Homo sapiens: one gene and its partners. The protein of the gene in region 2 interacts with the protein of the main gene of each other region in a pairwise test. Each region holds a gene or a part of one and is shown on either strand. Other genes may lie near its edges. The genes, in order: MAOB, FGF14 and H4C7.

Region 1 (3,756 bases), on a different chromosome or scaffold from region 2:
TCAGTACCTTGTTTTGATCAGAGTTCGGGAGGATGAATGCAGAGGTTTCACCACTGCTTGCAAAAATAGTTAAACCCTTATCTACCTTTTCCAGATGAGTCTAACATGAGTAATGTGATTGAACCTGAAGGTGTGGAGTATGAATCAGAAAGGGACAAATCATGAAGGGAAAATAGAAAAATCTGAATCCATTGGGCATACTTTAGTGAGAAAATGACTTCGGGGGCCTGAAAAGAGAAACTTCAGCTTCTGTAAGATGGGGTGCTATGCAAGGCAGCATCAAGAGGCACTTAGTAATATTTTCTAAAACACCTAAGTAGGTATGCTTTTAAGTCCAACTTCCTCTAGGAGAGAAGATGTCAAAAATACTGAAAGAAAACTGAATTTATACACAGCCTTGGCCAACCTCAGCATGTTGTGATTACGCATCTATGTACCTGCAACACCAGGCACAGGGCCTGGCATGGGCGAGCTCACCAGAGCCTGCTAGACAGATGTGGTAGCCTGAGATCCCACCCAAAGGGGAGAAAGGCTGGAGCAGAGGCAGGAGGACTGGACCATGGTCAGCACCAAACATCCAATGCCTTGGTTTTTTCTCCAGCCACAGGAGAGTCAGAACAACTCTGTCCTGCCCTCCTGGCAGGGAGCAAGGCCAACCTCTACTTCCCAAAGGCCACTTGAGAACTCCTTAAGGCAAGTCTTAGACAATGCATCCACGGGTCTGGAGGTGTCCTAATTACTGCTCAAGTACTAGGCAGCGTTAGGAGGTGGGCCAAAGCATGCCCAGGGGGCCATTAAACAGGCTGTGCTGAGAGCATCATTGATTCCCATTGACCCTATCCCATAGGATCTGCCTGATCCTCCACAGAGGGTAAGTTCCACCACTACCCCCATCCCTTCTTCTGGCTTCTATTTTTCGGTGCCCTTGGTATGTACACAGCCCCGTGTGGCTGAGGGGGTAGTGTCTGTCCCCATCCTTGCCAAATATGGGCTAGGCCAGAGAGCAAAGCTGCAGCTTGGCCACCCTGCGCTAGGAGTGGGGTGGGGTGGAGTGGGGGTGCGAGAGGCATAAGAGGAAAACAGGCATTTGCCAAAAAGACACTGCAGCCTCAAGTTAGATCCGTGACAATCACAGAACCTCAAAGAATCAGGAGGGCCTGGAAAGTCTTTGGCAATCGATTGGCCAGGCTCCAACCTCTTCTGTTCAAGGTCGTTTTCCTGACGCCAGGACAACAATACGATGTGGTGCATGCTTGCTCTAAGCGAGGGTGCGGAGTGTCCAGGTCAAGTTGGAGCAAATGACTGACCTTTGTGCCACCTCCCCACCCCTTTTCCCTGGCTTCGAAAATTCCAGCAAGCGAAGGCCTAGCAGCCTTCTGGGGGAGAAGTTCAAAGTCTGGCCCCAGAGCTGCAACAGGCTTCCAGCCTCTGGCCTCTGCGTCCGGGAACGCACCCAAAATTGCCCCCAAAGGAGGGTTCAGTGCACGGCGCTCTGGACCCACTAGAGCCCTGCCCGTGCGTGGACAGTCTGGGGACTCCAGGGTCAGCCCCTGCCCCACGGCCGCCCCCCGCGTCTCCCCCAGGCAGCCACCTGTCCGAGCGCGTGAAGAGGAAGGAGGGCGCACAGCCGCGACTAACCTGAGATGCCGCCCCCCACCACGACCACGTCGCATTTGTTGCTCATGGCGCTCGCCCCGTTCCAGGCCTCCCTGGTGCCCGCTGCTCCGTTTTCTGGGCCTCGATCCCAGTCCTGCCTGCCAGCCAGCCCGCCCGCCTGCCCGCCGGCCTGCTGCGCGCTGCCCCCGTGCACCAGCGCCTCGGCGAGCCGCTATATTACCAGCCCCGGGAGCCCGGACGCGCAGCCCCGCCCGCCCGCCTACGCGCAGGCAGGCCGGGTGCAGCGCAGGGCCACCGCCCCCGCCCGCAGCTCTGCAGCCCAGGCCCGGGGAGGGCGGGTGCCTGGGCGGAGAGGTCACCTAGGACTTCAAAGAGTCCCGCCCCAGAATCCCCACTCCTCAGCCTTCTGCACGGTATTTTCCCATCAGCCTCCCTAGTGCACTATCAGGCTTGGCGGCTGGGAGGACGGCAAATTGGGGTGTCTTCCTTCAGGGCCCCAATTACTCCTTGGGTGTAGGGCAAATAATAAGAAACTTCCATTGAGTGATTTCAAGGTACCAGGCACTGTGCTCAGTACTTTATGCATGATTCCTGTTCAAGCTTACAACAATCCATTTTGCAGATGAGGAAAACAAAACATGGTGAGTGACAACATAAGATAAAAAGTCAGAAAGAAAAAAAAAGAAAAGAAAAGAAAAGAAAAGCTAGGAAGATTCCAAGACCCACTTTGATTCACCACACAGTACTACCATTTCTTGGCATTCCCAGCCCACCTCACCCTCCTTCCAAATACCCACTTCTTTCCCCACTCCCCCTACGTGATTAAGTCAGGAAGGCTCCTCCCTAGCATCACAAATGCCGCACCTTAAATACACTCTTAAGCAATGCAGTGTGTCCTTGGTGGAAGCTGTTGAGGCTAGACCCCAGGAGACTAGTGGCAGCAGGGAAGAGGTGGTGGATCGGCATTGTGGGATTCAGAGCCCCCAGAAGCAGCAAGCCAAGTTACCTGTGTGACCCTGGAACGTGGGTATGAGGAGCCTGGTTTAGCCAAACACAGGGATGATTCAACAAGATTATAGGAGTTTAAGCTAAGGTGACTCCAGGGAAAACAGAAGTTTATGTCTTCTGGACAGTAGGAAAGCCACCTCTGAGAACTAAAAGTGGGAAGCAGCAACATAGAATGGCTTTTCAAGAAATAAACAGGTGAAGTGCTTCTGTTCAGGCCTGAGAGGGGCTGGCTTCAGATCTGGGGAATTTGATGAGAACCTGAAGCAAACCTCTGCCTCATCCCACACCATTCCCTGTATCTACCTGCTAGAAAGGTATCCTGAGCTTCTGCTGTCCTCAGACCAGAAGACAATTTGGGCACTTCTGTGACTGAGTCACAGGTGACAGGAAAAGTCTTTGTCCACCTCTGACTTCCATCTGTCCTGCTTTGGTATAAAACAGTCAGACCCTGTGCCTGAACCCCGATCCCTACCTCATGTCCCCACTGCAGAGAATGAAGCTACCTCACCCTGCAGACAGTTTGTGCTGACCTCCTCCTTGCCATCCCCTATCTGGTCCACTTCTGTTCACAGGTCCCTGAAGCTGTGGGCTTCTTGGCTGTGGATACTCTTGTCTCCCCACCTAGCCTGCAAGTGAATTACGTGCCAGGTGAGGTAGGATGAATGGAGAGGATCTGCTACGGTTTGAATGTGTCCCCCAAAGTTCACGTGTTGGAAATTCAATCCTCAATGCAACAATGTTGGGGCATGTTTAGGTTCCAAGGGCTCCATCCTCATGAATGGATTAATGCCACTATAAAAAGGGCCTGAGACAGCAAATTTGACCTCTTGCTCCTTCTAACCCTCATTGCCCTTCTGCCATGGGATGACATATTGGGAAGGCCTTTGCCAGATGCCAACATCTCATCTTGGAATTTGCAGACTCTAGAACCATGATACAATAAATTTCTCTTCAATGTAAATTACCCCCCTTAGGTATTCTGTACTAGCAGCACAAAATGGACTAACACGAGATCCTTGTGGGATCTTCTTGGAATCTCTTTTGCTTAGTTCCAACAGTGCAAGTCAGCCAGGAGCCTGGGGATCTAAGACTTTGAATAAAAGGCAGACTGATAAACCCTTCTCTATGTCC
Region 2 (3,756 bases):
GATCAATTTGATGAAATCACAATAGCCAAATGACAGGTTTAGCCCCCTCCTGGAGCAACTTATGTAGATCTTTATTTCTTCTTGATGATGCTACCTCAGATTAGAATAAGATCCCATCCAAATAAATGTTCTGGCTTTCTACTGAGTTCTGCATCTCCATATATCCTCCAATTAGTTTTCTCACTAATAAATGAGAGTCCACTGAGTCAATGTCCAGGCCATGCGCCCGAAAAAAAAGATTGATAAAACAGTACATGTTCATGCATTTATTGTGAGTAAAACAAAATGGAATGCTATAAATCTGGCTTCTCCCCAAGAGACTAATAAATATATTGGTTGAAACTATACTTTCTCAAACAAAAGGATTAGACTTTGGCATTTCACTTGTCTTTTTACTGAGACAGGGCAGGGCACCTAAGCATATTGCTTACCAGTTAAAAACCTATCTCAAAATCAGCTATGAGTGACATGCTGAGAGCTGACTTAGTGGGTCACTTAGTGGAAGTCAGGGGAATCTGGCTCTGCCTCCTGGGCTTCGGGTGTCTCTGCCCAGAACCTGGCTCACTGATGCTCATCCTGTTGCTACAAACACCAGAAACGTAGGTCCACAGGATTCTCTTCTGATCGTCACTGCCATAATGTCCAAAACATGAATGGTGCTTGCAACACCATCAGCAACTTAGGGATGTATTGTCTCCATTATGAATTCACTGTGTTGAATATGGAAGAGAAGAAGATGCTTGATGTAGAGGAAGTAATTTATTCTCGGTGGATACCTTAAGGATTCTGACACTATATCTTTTCAGATGAAATGTTCACATCATAGGACTCCAAAGAAGTCAATTCCACAGCACCTTTCTGTGAGCTGTGCCCGTGACTTCACAGATAGGTGATTCTTTCTGTAGAACTATTGCCTTCAGTTGCTTGTGATAGTGGAGACTGGTATATTTTCAGCCTTCTTATTTGTGGCTAAATAATTAATGCACACACAAATGCACATGTTACATTCAAAGATGTTATTGTCTAATACATTTTCTCAAAACTTTTTGAGAACTTAATCTGTTCCTCCAATATTGAAGTCTCAAATAATCCCAGCATTTCCTATAGAACCGATAGAACCAATGGAAGTTGAGGTTAGTTGCTATTTGATGTCATAAGTGATATACTTTCAACACGTAAATGGGAAGCAATGGAGCAGATAAACATCACCTGTGGAGGCAGACAGTAGGATTCAACCCTGACCCCACTAGCTGTGTGTTCTTGGGGAAATTACTCAATCTCTCTGGGCTTCAGTTTCCTCATCTCTAAAATGAGGACAAAAATCATAGGGCAATAAGGTAGTTGGGATGATTGAGTGAATAAATACGTATTACACATTTAGAAGAGAACTTGGTATACAGTGAGCACTCAATAATTATTCTTTAAAAGTTTCTCATTATTTGTAGTAAAAAATATATCCTGATCAGTTATTTCAATTCTGTGAAAATCTCACCAAAAGTCAGCTACATAATTAGTCAATGAAAACCATTTTACACAAAATATTGGGTTCAGCATGAAATATACCAAGATAAATAATAGTCATTCATTTCACTGAAAAATGACAGAACAATATAATATTTGTTATGAGTGACTTACCTATAAAATACTAGAGTGATTATAGGGAGAATAAATGGTATTGTGAAAGGCAAGAGGTGGGAAATGGCCTGGTACATTTGGAGAACTGTAAATAGTTCATCACTGAGATACACGCTTTGTGGGACAGAAGTGGAGAATGTTGTAGATGGGAAGATAGGTTTGAGAAACATAATAAAGGGTCTTGAAAACTCTAATAAACAAATTAGATGTCTTATAAGTGAGAGGAAGACATGTTGAATTCCTGAATATGCAAGGGAATAATAATAGGGCCTGATTCGTATGTTATAAATACAAATCTGTTGTCAGTGTGGAGGATGGTTTCGAAAAGTTAAGAACATGTCGTACTGATGTTTTCAACCCTAATCTCTCACAAAATGAACCTGAAAGTTGTTTGTAGCACATGAGTATATGTGTGTTCACGTTAATAGTTAGTATTAATATTACAAATAGAGAACCAGAACACACAAAGTAAGGGGAGAAATAATATCAGGATTATGACACACTGACTTCTGAACTTTCTGGTAGCCAGGACAAAAAGAGAAAGACTATAATGTTACAAAAATTATTCAAGAAAGAAAATATTTTCCTTTTTGAAAATGAAAAGTTTCTTGGCATGAATTTTTAAAAGGTATTTCCTTATAAGGGACCTAAAAAACTGACATTGACCAACATAAACAAAAATGCTCTTGAGAGTAATTGCACAGTCATACTTTGTGCTTCAATCCTGCAGTATGCTTTAGGAAAACAGATTGCATTGAAAATGTCCAATAGGTAGAACTACTTAAAGTCCAGTAGGTGGAAATAATTGTAATTGATGAGATCTCCAGGGATAATGTGCACAGCACGGGCCACAAACTCAAATGCCTCTAATGACCAGGTAGATACAGGAGTGAGGAAAGCTGGCATGATCATGGCACCGTAATGAGGATAAATGGCCTCTGACTCAGGCTCTGTGGTGAGGAGATGAAGACAGTGGTAGAAGCAATGATTTTTTTAAAAAAGCAGCCGTCCCTCACATGGTTCTCCTGTGAAAATAAAAACCTTAGATCTTTAGAAGATCTGATTTTTCAAAGGAAGTAAGAAATGTAAGTTTCTACAGATAATCTCCTTTTAACATTGGCAACTATTTCTTAGTTTTTGTTTTTCAACCTTGAGTGGGTCAAGGGGCCACAGGGAAGCCTGTGAGCCTTCAGTATGAGACCTCCAATGTACAGCAGCAAGAACCAAAGAAAGAGGAGCCCTACTTTGCTTCTCAAGGCAGTCCTAGTCTAATTGATAGTTGCTATACAGTTGGATAATACAATTATTGTGCCAGTGAAACACTCTCTAAAACTGGCAGTGATAATATGAAAATGCTTATTTAAATTTAGGCTTAAATATAAACTCTTTGAATCTGCCAAAACGAGATCGATAAGGAGTTTGATGTATCTTTTTCTCACCTTGCCTCCTTGACTATGTTTAGAACCATCACCCCCACCACAACAAAATCAACAACAGATGAGTTCCAGCAGAAGCTTGAATATTAATTTGCACCACTGCCAAACTAAATCATCAAGTCATAGGATAGAAAAATGCAATAATTAAACAGAAATGTTATATCTTTTTTATGTTGTGGTTGTTTTTGAAATGAAAGCACCATCTGTGGTGTACTTATTATCTTAACAGTAGCAGCAGAATTCCTCTTCTGAGGGAAATGCCTTTGTTTAGGAAAATACCGTGATGGGCCATTTGCTTGTACAAAGAGAGACTTCTGGTTGGAAGGAGCTCTCCTTCCATAACTCATCAGGAATGAATAACTCAGATAATCTGGCAAAACCATAACCTCAGAATTGAAAGTGACCTTGAGAATCTAATCCAGTGGTCCAGCAAACTGACTCTCAGGCCAAACACAATTTTCACCTGTTTTTGTAAATAAGGTTTCATTGGAAAACAGGCACTTTCCTTTGTTTATATATTGTCTGTGTCTGCATTTACACTACAAATTTCAGAGCTGCGTGGTCGAGAAAGATCTTTATGGCTCACAAAACCTAAAATGTTTACTATATGGTCCTTTGCCAAAAGTTTGCCAATCCTGATCTAAGGTAAAATTTGAGGACTTTCCAACCTAAGTAATTGAGGGAA
Region 3 (2,972 bases), on a different chromosome or scaffold from region 2:
TCTTTGACCCCTGTACTTTCATAAACAGTAAATTGAGACACGAATTATTGCAGTTACACCTTATCAAGGTGTTTCTATATTTACGATGGATCACAAGCAAAGGCACGAAACAGGTAAACTTCTTTTAGTGCTGCTAAATTAGATCATTGAACTAGCAAGGGGGCCAGTCCCTCCACTGCAGACACATTTGTCAGAACGGCACCTGGCAAGTTTGTGCTAATTATTGTGTATTCTCTGGTTATTGAAATTGCTTATTAAGCAGAATATAAAAGTCGGGTTATCTTGGCACTAAAACTACAATTTTAATTACGGAGGGTAATCCTAACAGTAAGGAGAAAAACACACTACCATAACCACATTTTGAGAGCTTTTAAGTGACAATGTAGCCGTTGATGTCCTCAGCCAGCCCACCAGATTTCTAATCTCTGAACACACGATTAACTTACCACCTGTATTCCATGTTGTATGTCAGCCTTGGCGTAAATTTATACTTTACAGCATTATACACCTAACAGCTTTTGGGCACCTACAGCAATAAAACACACAATATTGCTGAGTGCGTTAGTTAAGTTTCCACAATGTCAAACGTGAGCCCTTCGGAAGAAAACGTACGCGGCCCTGAAAAGGGCCATTAACGATATTGCAAGGAAAGGCCTGGCCTCACTTAACCGCCAAAGCCTTACAGGGTTCTTCCCTGGCGTTTGAGCACGTAGACCACGGCCATGGCGGTGACCGTCTTGCGCTTGGCGTGCTCCGTGTTGGTCACGGCGTACCAGATCACATTTTCCAGGAACACCTTGAACACCCGGCGGGTCTCCTCATAAATGAGGCCCAAGATGCGCTTGACACCGCCATGCCGGGCCAAGCGCCGGATAGTGCACTTGGTAATGCCCTGAATATTATCGCTCAGTACCTTGCGATGGCACTTGGCACCGCCTTTCCCAAGGCCTTTTCCGGCCTTGCCCCGAACAGACATGATAAACAAGTCAGAACTATCTCTAAACAAAACGATTACTCGCTTTCCGCAGCCTTTTATATAACGGTAGAGTAGACCTTTTTGAAAACTGAAAGACCAGGAAAGGCGGGAAAACGTATTCAGTCCCCGCTCATCTACTTCTAGTAATAACAAGACATAAGAAATTCTCTTGTAGTAGGGAGATTTGCTGGCATTTAGAGAATAAGGATCTCTAAACGAAAGTGTCAAACATGTACCTAGAGGAAAGTATCTCGATTTTTGATGTCTGTATGTGTTTAAAGATTTACTCCTGGCCGGGCGCGGTGGCTCACGCCTGTAATCCCAGCACTTTTGGAGGCCGAGGCGGGCGGATCACGAGCTCAGGAGATCGAGACCATCCTGGCTAACACGGTGAAACCCTGTCTCTAATAAAAATACAAAAAATTAGCAGGGCGAGGTGGCGGGCGCCTGTAGTCCCAGCTATGCAGGAGGCTGAGGCAGAAGAATGGCATGAACCCCGTGGGGTGGAGCCTGCAGTGAGCCGAGATCACGTCACTGCACTCTAGCCTGGGCAAGGGCGAAGCCCGTCTCAAAAAAGAAAAAAAAAAGATTTACTCCTTCCCTGTATATTAGAGCATTTACCATGCTGAAGTTGAAACAAGCCCAAATTCCAAGACATAAAAGAATTCCTAATCATATTGCCAAGCCGCCCAGCTAAAGAGAAGTAGCCTGGTTTTTGGTTTCGAATCTGTGAGTGACTGCTCTCTCACCGATATTAGACATGTTAATCTGAGTTTCAATGGCCCTATCTGTAAAAAGGGTAAATACTTGTTAATAATTGAGTTACTTTAAGCAAAACACTGGCATATAGTTAGTAAATGATTTTTTTTTAAAATACGGAGTTTCGCTCTTGTTGCCCAGGCTGGAGTGCAATGGCGCAATCTCTGCCCACTGCAACCTCCACCTTCTGGGTTCAAGCTATTCTCCTACCTCGGCCTCCCAAGTAGCTGGAATTACAGGTATGTGCCACCACTCCCGGCTCATTTTTGTATTTTAGTAGAGACCAGATTTCACGTTGGCCAGGCTGGTCTCCAACTCCTGCCCTCAGGTGATCCGCCCGCCTTGGCCTCCCAAAGTGCTGGGATTACAGGCGTGAGCCACCTCACCGGCCAGTTGGTAAACGAATTCTTATTGCCACAGCCTTTTTTTACAGACAAAATAATAATGCAGAGGTAAAGCACACCGAAGGATTTTAAAACATTGCCTTTGCAACACCAATACATTCAGTGTGCTTTCACTTATATTAAGCACTATACAATTAAGCAATGAAGAATTGCCCAGAAAAAAGATAATGTAAATTGCCAGAGGCTCCATGCCCTGTTCTCATGTGGAGGACAGAAGGTACAGGGGGTGACTGTCTTCTGGGGTTGATACAACAGGAAACTCAGGGAAAGCTGTCATAAATGTTAATAGGAGAAAAGGGGAATTTGCTCACAAGCCAAAATAAAGACATAAGCACCACTAAATTTTTACATTACAAAATACTTGCTGAGCTAGTTAAACGAGAGCATTTAAGTGGAAATAAATGATGTCTCTAAAATAGAATGTTCAAAATAACAATGGATTTTTTATTGTGCAGTTACGATGCACCAAACAAACAGTCCTAAAGATCATGGGTTTTTGAAGCAGGGTCAGCAATATCTAAAAAATCATGTAACTGCATAAATGAATTATGGCCTAATGAGCAGGTCACCACAACAAAAAGCCAAGAGTGCAAACAACTATTTGTGGGGAAAACAAACAAACAAACTTGATAAACCATGGAATTCCAAGCAATAAAAGCAGCAATCCCATCACAGCCTATTTCTACATTATTTTGAAATAATTAGATTTTTTTTTTTTTTTTTTTTTTTTTTTTTTGAGGCGGGGTCTCACTCTGTAGCCCAGGCTGGAGTGCAGTGGCACGATCCCGGCTCACTGCAACCTCCACCTCCCAGGTTCAAGTGATTCTTCTGCC

The links.
Region 1: the proteins of FGF14 (region 2) and MAOB interact in binary tests that used the Homo sapiens proteins (3 or more experiments, as listed by UniProt).
Region 3: the proteins of FGF14 (region 2) and H4C7 interact in binary tests that used the Homo sapiens proteins (3 or more experiments, as listed by UniProt).

The regions. Positions count from the first base shown.
Region 1 is NC_000023.11:43,880,616-43,884,371, forward strand, and holds the start of MAOB (amine oxidase [flavin-containing] B), read right to left. Parts: upstream 1,836-3,756; 5' UTR 1,685-1,835; coding exon 1,639-1,684; intron 1-1,638.
Region 2 is NC_000013.11:101,728,265-101,732,020, forward strand, and holds part of FGF14 (fibroblast growth factor 14), read right to left. Parts: intron 1-3,756. UniProt on the Homo sapiens protein: Probably involved in nervous system development and function.
Region 3 is NC_000006.12:26,246,002-26,248,973, forward strand, and holds H4C7 (histone H4-like protein type G), read right to left. Parts: upstream 996-2,972; 5' UTR 977-995; coding exon 680-976; 3' UTR 610-679; downstream 1-609. UniProt on the Homo sapiens protein: Core component of nucleosome. Nucleosomes wrap and compact DNA into chromatin, limiting DNA accessibility to the cellular machineries which require DNA as a template.